Regions from separate parts of the Homo sapiens genome. Here region 1 is linked to region 2. Evidence: fine-mapped expression QTL. A gene starts in region 2. The other region holds a variant in brackets. All regions are shown on one strand. Distances are from middle to middle.

Region 1 (4,400 bases), 860 kb after region 2:
ATTTATTTTATTTTATTTTTTGAGACAGAAGTTTCACTCTTGCTGCCCAGGCTGGAGTGCAGTGGCATGATCTTGGCTCACTGCAACCTCCGCCTTCCGGGTTCAAGTGATTCTCCTGCCTCAGCCTCCTGAGTAGTTGGGATTACAGGTACTTGCTATCATGCCTGGCTAATTTTTTGTATTTTTAGTAGAGACGGGGTTTCACCATGTTGGCCAGGGTGGTCTCCAACTCCTGACCTCAGGTGATCCACCTGCCTCAGCCTCCCAAAGGGCTGGTTTACAGACGTGGACCACTGCACCCAGCCCAAAAATATTTTGATGTATGTATACATTGTGAAATGTTTAAATCAAGCTAATTAATGCATCCATCATCTCACATACTTAGTTTTTGTGATGAGAACATTTCAGATCTAAGCTCTTAGCAATTTCCAATCACACAATACATTAATTATTGTCACCATGCAGCACAACAGATCTCCAGGACTTGCTCATCCTGACTGAAACCATTCTCCCAGAGTTCCATTCTAACATCCCAGAAAACAAGGTAAGAGGCCCAAATTAAGAAGCCTGTTCAACCATTGCGGAAGACAGTGTGGCAATTCCTCAAGGTTCTAGAACTAGAAATACCATTTGAGCCGGCAATCCCATTACTGGGTATATGACCAAAGGATTATAAATCATTCTACTAAGACACACACACACGTATGTTTATTGCAGCACTGTTCGCAATAGCAAAGACTTGGAACCAACCCGAATGATGACCAGTGACATATTGGACAAAGAAAATGTGGCACATATATTCCATGGAATACTATGAAGCCATAAAAAAGATGAGTTCATGTCCTTTGCAAGGACATGGATGAAGCTTGAAACCATCATTCTCAGCAAACTAACACAGGAACAGAAAACCAAACACCACATGTTCTCACTCATAAGTGGGAGTTGAACAATGAGAACACATGGACACAGGGAGGGGAACATCACACACCAGGTCCTGCTTGGGGGGATGGAGGGCTAGGGGAGGGATAGCATTAGGAGAAATACTTAATGTAGATGACGGGTTGATGGGTGCAGCAAGCCACCATGGCACATGTATACCTATGTAACAAACATGCATGTTCTGCACACATATCCCAGAACTTAAAGTATAATAATTTAAAAAAACAACAACAACAGAAAAAGAAGCCTGGCCAAGTGCAGTGGCTCATGCCTGAAATCCCAAGTTTGGGAGGCTGAGGCAGGAGGATTGCTTGAGCCCAGGAGTTCAGGACCAGCCTGGGCAACACAGGAAGACCCTGTTTCTACAAAAAATTAGAAAATTAGCCAGGTATGGTGGCACATGCCTGTAGTCCTAGCTACTTGGGAGGCTCAGGCAGGAGAATCATTTGAGTCCAGGAGTTCAAGGCTGCAGTGAGCTATGATCACACCACTGCATTCTGGCTTGGGCAACAGAGTGAAACCCTGTGTCCAAAAAAAAAAAAAAAAAAAAGATAAATATGCTAGGGCTGGGCACAGTGGCTCAGGCCTGTGATACTAGCACTTTGGGAGACTGAGGTGAGGGGCTCGAGACCAGCCCTGAAGTCATAGGTTCAAGACAGTCCTGGGCAACAGAGTGAGGGCCCATCTCTTAAAATACAAAAAAAAA[G/AG]AAGAAGAACCTTAAGCTTACACTATCTTTGTTTTTCAGGTTAACTCAGCCACATGTGATACTCAGTTCAAAGTTCAAACTCCCAATCATTCCTCTTTTCCCATCAGAGTTTTCCTTCCTTCTCCCCTTTTCTGAGACATGTCTGGATTCAGGATGAACCTTATTTATCCTCATGGATTTATGAGGAGAAGCTTCTGTGGCATAGGTTTCCTTCCTGCTTTCCTGGTCTCTTTAGTAGTGTGCCTGGTTTGCTCTGGACTCTGTGCTGGTATCCACCTGGATGTTCCTACTCCCACTTGGACTTTTGGCCTTGTCCTGGCTCCTGATGCTGAAGTCTACAGTGACTGTAATTTGCCGTGGATATGAGGTCCCTGCGCTCTATAACAGGGCTTAGCAAACTTTTTCTATACAGGGATAGAAAGTAAATACCTTAGACTTCGTAGATCACATGCAGTCTCTGTCACATACTTTTCTTGTTGTTTACTATTGTTCTCCTCCTCCTGTTCCTTCCTCCTTTTCCTCTCATTTTCTTCCCTCTCTTCTGTCACCTTCATCTTCTTCTTTTCTATAGTCCTTTAAAATTTTTTTAAAATTATATCTCAGGGCTGTAAAAAGGTAGGCTGTAACAGGAGTTGGCCTGCAGACCACAGTTTGCCAAACCCTGCCCTGCGGCCTTTGTCTTCTGACCTTGGGTCCCTTCCTATTCCCCTACATGGATCCACATTCCTGGTATGCAGTCTATGGAAGACTGTAGACTATTATTACAGGTCCGTCTATCAAGAAAACTCCCTCTACTCACAGCTTCATTGCTTTTGCACCATTTTGATCCCAGAAACAGAGCAACAGCCAGAATGTTCTTTCATTCCCTCTCAACCTAGCTGGGTTTTTTGTTGGGATTTGATTGCTCGAGGCCCAGGAGATACGAGGTGCTAGGTCTGCTTTCAGGGACTCTGGCGGCAACATTCCCATTCTAGTGACATCGTCACTAAATTCCTCTGCTTTTCCTCTCAGCAAAGGGCTTTCTACTTATGTGGGGTGGGTTATGTCTTATGATAAACCATGGTTTATAGTAAAACTCTTCTACTATGTTATATTAGCCTTGTATTTTACTACATAGAAGGGAGATTTGGGAATTGAGGAAACAACTTTCATTCTCAACCAAGCTTAGTTTTATGTAAACTTCAAGATTGTTTTTTGTTTTGGAAATGGACAATTAAAAGCAGATCATTTTTCAATACAACATATTTCCCAATACATTCCTGAAATAATTATCCTAAGTCCCCATGTTACATAATTACTGTCTGATTTATCCATTACTCAGATGTACACAAGTTTTCTTAAGCAAGGGTGCACTGTATGTATTTCAAGTTACTAGACATCTAAACTGTTTACTGCTGACCATGAATTTGCCATACTTTGCAGGAAACATTCAGCTTCAGGGTAAAGTCAAGTATTCTAAAGTCGTATATTATAATCATCTATTTAAATATTTTAAGTGATCATTTATTCATAAGGCCCTACTTTTTTCTTCCCAAGATATTTGGCATGATGCAACAGCAATTAAACGGCACTTATAATCATAATCACAGCAATTATTATGTTTTCTGGCAGCTCTGTGCCACCCTTACATAGCAAGCCTCCAGAGATGTGTTCTGCCTCTGGAACAGAGAACATCTGCCCTCAGCAGTGGCTCCAGCCTGTGCTCCTGCCTGGATCACTCATGAGAGCCTCTGTAGTGACTCTGCCATACCCTAGGAACCATCGTCAGTGACTCAGTGTCACCCAGCAAATGAGAAGGCTGCTACAGTGCTTAGCTGCCCTTTTCCTCTCATAAAGATTCTTCATTCTTTGATATTTGCAGAGTTAAATACAGCAGATTTAAAATTCCAAATGCATCCTACTTTAGATGCCCAGAAATATGGCTCAAGCTTTGATTACAGAAAGAAGTAAAATGTATGAGATGGTTCACTGTGAATTTAAAAATAATTTTCAAAAAAGCTGGATTTCATTCAGAAAGGCCAAAGCTGCTTGCCTGCTTGCTTGTGCCTATGTTCTTGTTTTCTCTCTCTCTCTCTCTCTCTCTCTCTGTGTGTGTGTGTGTGTGTGTGTGTGTGTGTGTTTAAGAGGAGGAAGAAATGTCCAGTCCAGCATCATGAGCCTCCTTCTTCCTGAGATCCCTGGAGAATATGAGAATATGAGGTGGACACCACTGGGCTAGGCTGTTAAGGAATTGAACCTCCCACCTGCCTGGTCTGAAATTCCAGCATTAGAACCACCTCTTCTGGGAAATGTTCTTTTGCCTTTTCAAGCAGGGTCATGGGTTGCCTCTTCTATACTCCCACAGCTAAGGTGATTAAGTGTCCCAGTTTGCCAGGAACTATACCATTTTTGAAAAAAATGAAAGTCCCATATCCCAGAAAACTCAGGAGTCCTGGGCAAACCAGGGCAGTTTGTCACCATACTACTGTGTTCAAGGGTCAGTGTTTACACTATTATAATCATCTAGTTAGCTGCTGGTTGCCCTCATTAAATGTAAACTCCTTGAAGGTAGAAATTATGTCAAGCTCTAAAAAATTTTTTTGTTGAAAGAATGAAGGAGCATTTGAGAGAATGAGTAAGTGAATGAATGAATGAATGAATGAATGCATGGATGGAACTAATTAGTCTGATAAGGTTATCTATAGTTTTGAGAGGTTCATTTATCATTTTTCCTGAGAGGAGAGAAGCAAGATACTTCTCCTTCAGTAAATTTACT
Region 2 (4,400 bases):
TCAGTTTCATTATCTGTAACATAGGGATAGTAACAGTACTTACCTCATAGGAGTGTTAGGAAAATTAAACAAGTTAATATTTTTGAAGTGCTTAGAACACTGCCCACCATGTCAATAAAATTTCATGAGAAAGTAGTGTCCTTTTTGAATCTACAGATTGAGAAAATATGTACCTAACTCCAAATTACCATGAATTCAGTAATACTATATAAAATAATTCATATTTGTTTATCACGCCTGGATTTGTACAATTTGCAAGACAGTATATCTGTGAAAGATGCTATTACTTATCAGTCTATAGAAACTGTTTAATATGCATATGAATTTGCAATAAATCTGAGGAGGTCAGGAGTTCACAATACACATACATGCTCCACACACTGATCCTCAGTGTCTGCAAAGTAGGACTATAATTGGTCATTTTTAACTAATTAGAATCCTTCTAGAATTTTTATGTTTACACTAATATAATGTTCTCTCTCCTCCTACCAGAGTCATGGCTCAATATGACCCGTGAGAGTTGAGTAAACAAAACCAACACATACCGCAGAAGTTTGGCACCCTGGAAACTTAACATAAGAAATGATTGACTAGAGTACTGAGAGGCATGTTTAGAATGCAAGTGTAATGAACAAAGCTTCAATCTACTTTAGCCCATTGCCTGAGAATTGACTGCATTAACAAAAAAGGGTTAGCCAACAGCAGATGCAGGGAACGGTCAGAAAACAAAAGGTGACAAGGATCTCTTGCACTGTCTAGAGGAAAAGGTACCCTGACCTATGAACACAAATAATCCAATCTCTTGAACACAAATATCCCTACACTGTGGAGACACAAAGCCTCATGATTGTGTCATTAATTTTTAATCTATCCTTGTTTGTTCTGATCCAAGTTTAACAAGCAACATCCTGTGATAATATGGCTTCTCATATAGTTTTGTCTATGGGAAAAAGATATGTTTGGCACTATTACTTTTCATCGTAAGTGAGTAAATCAGCATTCTAGATTACGCAGCAGTTGCTATGAGTGAATTTATTTAACATGAATTTCTAAAAGACTTGTCAACTCTGGGTGCCCAGGAGTCAGGTTTAGCACCTCCAAAAAGACAGAGTAGAGGATGAGACCCTGAAATGAAAGGACTACAGGTACTACTACCTCATGGGAGTGAGGCAGTCCCAGACCATCTTTTATAATAGCAATATGGAATCCTCATTCCCAATAGGCTTGTAACTTTGCTTTTTTCTGGTAGAGAGTGATCCCTACTACATTGTTATCCCTAGGAAAAGTAGGCTAAGACGTATTTTTGCCTTTGACAACCAGTTCTGGTTTGGAATGTGTGGTACATCAATGACTTAAACTATGTTAATTAACTACTACTTATGTACTGTATTGGTTCCTTCAGTTCAATAATTAACCTGAGTAATGAGCAAAACATTTTGTTGGAAGATGTATGGCTATAAAGATGGATTATAGCAATGTGGAAGTAACCTAACTGTCCATCGTCAGATGAATGGATGAACAAAAGGTGCCATATGCATACAATGGAATATTAGTCTTAAAAAGGAAAGATATTCCAGCACATGCTACATCATGGATGAACCTGGAGGACATAATGCTGAGTGACATAAGCCAGACACAAAAAGACAAATACTGTATGATTCTGCTTATATGAGGTACCTAGAGTAGCCAAACTTACAGCAATGGAAAGTAGAATGGTGGTTGCCAGGGCCTGGAGAAGGGAGGGATAAGGAGTTAGCATTTAGTGAGTACAGAGTTTGTTTTACAAGATAAAAGGTTTTGGAGATGGATAGTTGCTCAACAGTATGAATGTATTTAATGCCACTGAACTATCCACTTAAAAATGGTTAAGGTGGGCCGGGTGCGGTGGCTCACGCCTGTAATTCCACCACTTTGGGAGGCTGAGGCAGGCGGATCACGAGGTCAGGAGATTGAGACCATCCTGGCTAACAAGGTGAAACCCCGTCTCTACTAAAAATACAAAAAATTAGCCGGGCGTGGTGGCGGTCGCCTGTAGTCCCAGCTACTCGGGAGGCTGAGGCAGGAAAAATGGCGTGAACCCAGGAGGCGGAACTTGCAGTGAGCCAAGACATCCGCGGCGATGCACTCCAGTCTGGGCAACAGAGCGAGACTCGTCTCAAAAAAAAAAAAAGAAAGAAAGAAAGAAAAAAAACCATTAGGCCCAGGAGAATCAGACTGCGTTGCCCCCACTGTTCTCAGTTCAGCTGTCGCTCCCAGGGTTTGGACCAGAAAGCCCTCGCCGGCCCAACAGATGGCGCCGGTGTCCGCAGTGCGCCTCCAGGCCCAAAGGGGGCGCTCTCGCCAGGCCTCTTTTTCCTCTCCTGGGTGACTCTTCCGCCTTCCGAGCCCGCCTTCTCGCCACGCACCTGCGTCAGCTCGCTCTGCGCGTGCGCCGGTGGCGGGACTCTGGGGAAAATGGCTGCGTCTTCGAGTGGTGAGAAGGAGAAGGAGCGGCTGGGAGGCGGTTTGGGAGTGGCGGGTGGTAACAGCACACGAGAGCGGCTGCTGTCTGCGCTTGAGGACTTGGAGGTCCTGTCTAGGTAATGCGGCGAGCCTGAGAGCCGGGCTGGAGCTGGGCCGGGGGACTGACCCCGGAGCCGGCCGGCCCTGCGTTTGTGCTCGTTCTCGGGGTTCGGCGGGGAGGGCCAGCTCGGGAGTTTCGGGTGCATGAGGGTCATGGACGTGGGGTCCGCAGCCCTCTGGCACTCTGGGCGGCGGTTTTTCCCGTTAGAGGGAATTTTAGTAATGATAAGAACTCGCGCGGTCTGAGCCTCTTCGTCCGCGGCCAGCCACTTAACATTTATGGAACGCTCCTTGGGGGCTCAGCATTGGGGAGACGGTAGTGAAGGGTAGACTGGATGCCAGCTGTCGAGAGAGAGACAGATGTGTAAACTGGCTTGGGGCCTGTTTTTATTAGAGGGCTGCGCTGCGGGGTACTGGAGCACAGGGACTAGGCACCTTTTTTGGTTGTAGTCAGGGCAGGCCCTCTGAAGAAAGTGCTGCTTGGGAAGCATGAGCTCGCCAAACTCACTAGGCAGCACAGATAGATGGAACAGCAAGTGCAAAAAGCCTGGCTTGGTGGAGTTGCAAGTTGTTTAGGATGGTTGTGTGTCAGAGATAGGAGATGAAATTAGATGTCGTTCTTCATATTCTGTCACCTTTCATGATAAGTCTTTCAAGTTGAAGCCTTCCTTGACTCCCTCCCATTGACTTGGATGGTAAATTATCTTGGTTCTACCTCCTAAAGTGTCGCTCCAATTTGCCCTCTCGTTCCAACCCCGCTGTTCATAACTCCTTCTTAAATGTAGCCTCCCAAACAGTTTTAATTGCCTCATGCTTCTGCACTTTATCCTTTTATATTGGCCGATACCAGTTTTAAAAGGCATCTTATATCACTTTTCTGCAGAAAAATTATATAAAAGCTACCTCATTGGTAGGTTTGCGTTGTCCAGTGAGGTAAAGTTCAAATTCTTTAGTCAGACTTCCACATCTTCAGTGCCATTCCCAGTCTACTCCCGATTTGGTGAATGATTCATATATCCTTCAGAATCCAGCTCAAATGTCACTTTTTCTATAGCCAACATTCTTTGACAGCTTTAGAATAAATCTTACCTGTTGTATTTTAAAATATACGTGATATAATCAGCACTTTATTTTTGGTGTAAATTTAGTCCTTGCCATCGTATTGCTACCAAGTTACCAGGTCAGCACAATATTTAATGATGGAAGAAAACCCGAAAACACCTAGACAGCAGAAATTAAATGGCTTATGTGTTTGATCCACTGTTTAAAATAAACTGTATTAGGGCCGGGTGTGGTGGCTCACGCCTATAATCCGAGCACTTTGGGAGGCCAAGGCGGGCGGATCATTGGAACTTCTTCACAGAATGAAGCTGCTCTGGTGGTGTGACTGGCTTCCAGAAAGGTCTCATGTGTTCACTCAGAGGTAGTTATGTGTACTGATTCTGTGATCTGTGAAGTTTGTCAGTCTCTGAATGTAATTTGTGTCTGGCTTGCATTTATGAAAATGAGAAGAAAAATCACGAATATACCTTACATATTTTTAGATTTAGCCTCTTTAAAAATAGTGGATTTATAACTTAGGATCTTTTTTTTTCTATTAACCTGATTATATAGCCTTTCGGGATATTTATTAGTTTATAAAATGTAATGCAAGGAGATAGTCTTAAAAAGTTGAAACACAGGTTGTAGGCTAAACGTTTTTTTTAACCCATTTGTAACTCAAAACTCATTGTTCCACAGAACCATGTTGATAGGAATCTTGAGTTTTCCACACCAGCCTGTTAATTCTGTTTACCTGAAAAGTGTATTACTGCTAATAATGTAGGCTCTAACCGCTA

Evidence for each region. PIP is the estimated chance that this variant, and not a neighbour inherited with it, causes the effect. A credible set is the group of variants that fine-mapping cannot tell apart.
Region 1: its variant is the best candidate, but not a certain one, in a credible set for the expression of MED4 in rectum (CEDAR, PIP 0.61).

Annotation. Positions count from the first base shown.
Region 1 is chr13:47,236,759-47,241,158 of GRCh38, reverse strand. No RefSeq gene overlaps it. Among named protein-coding and RNA genes, the nearest start is that of HTR2A, 340 kb to the right of the region's middle. The variant G/AG (reference allele first, on the strand shown) is at 1,646.
Region 2 is chr13:48,093,133-48,097,532 of GRCh38, reverse strand. It overlaps MED4 (mediator complex subunit 4), which reads left to right and starts at 2,429. Exons shown (of 7, transcript NM_014166.4): 1 at 2,429-2,579. The coding sequence starts at 2,455. RefSeq lists a silencer at 2,926-3,220.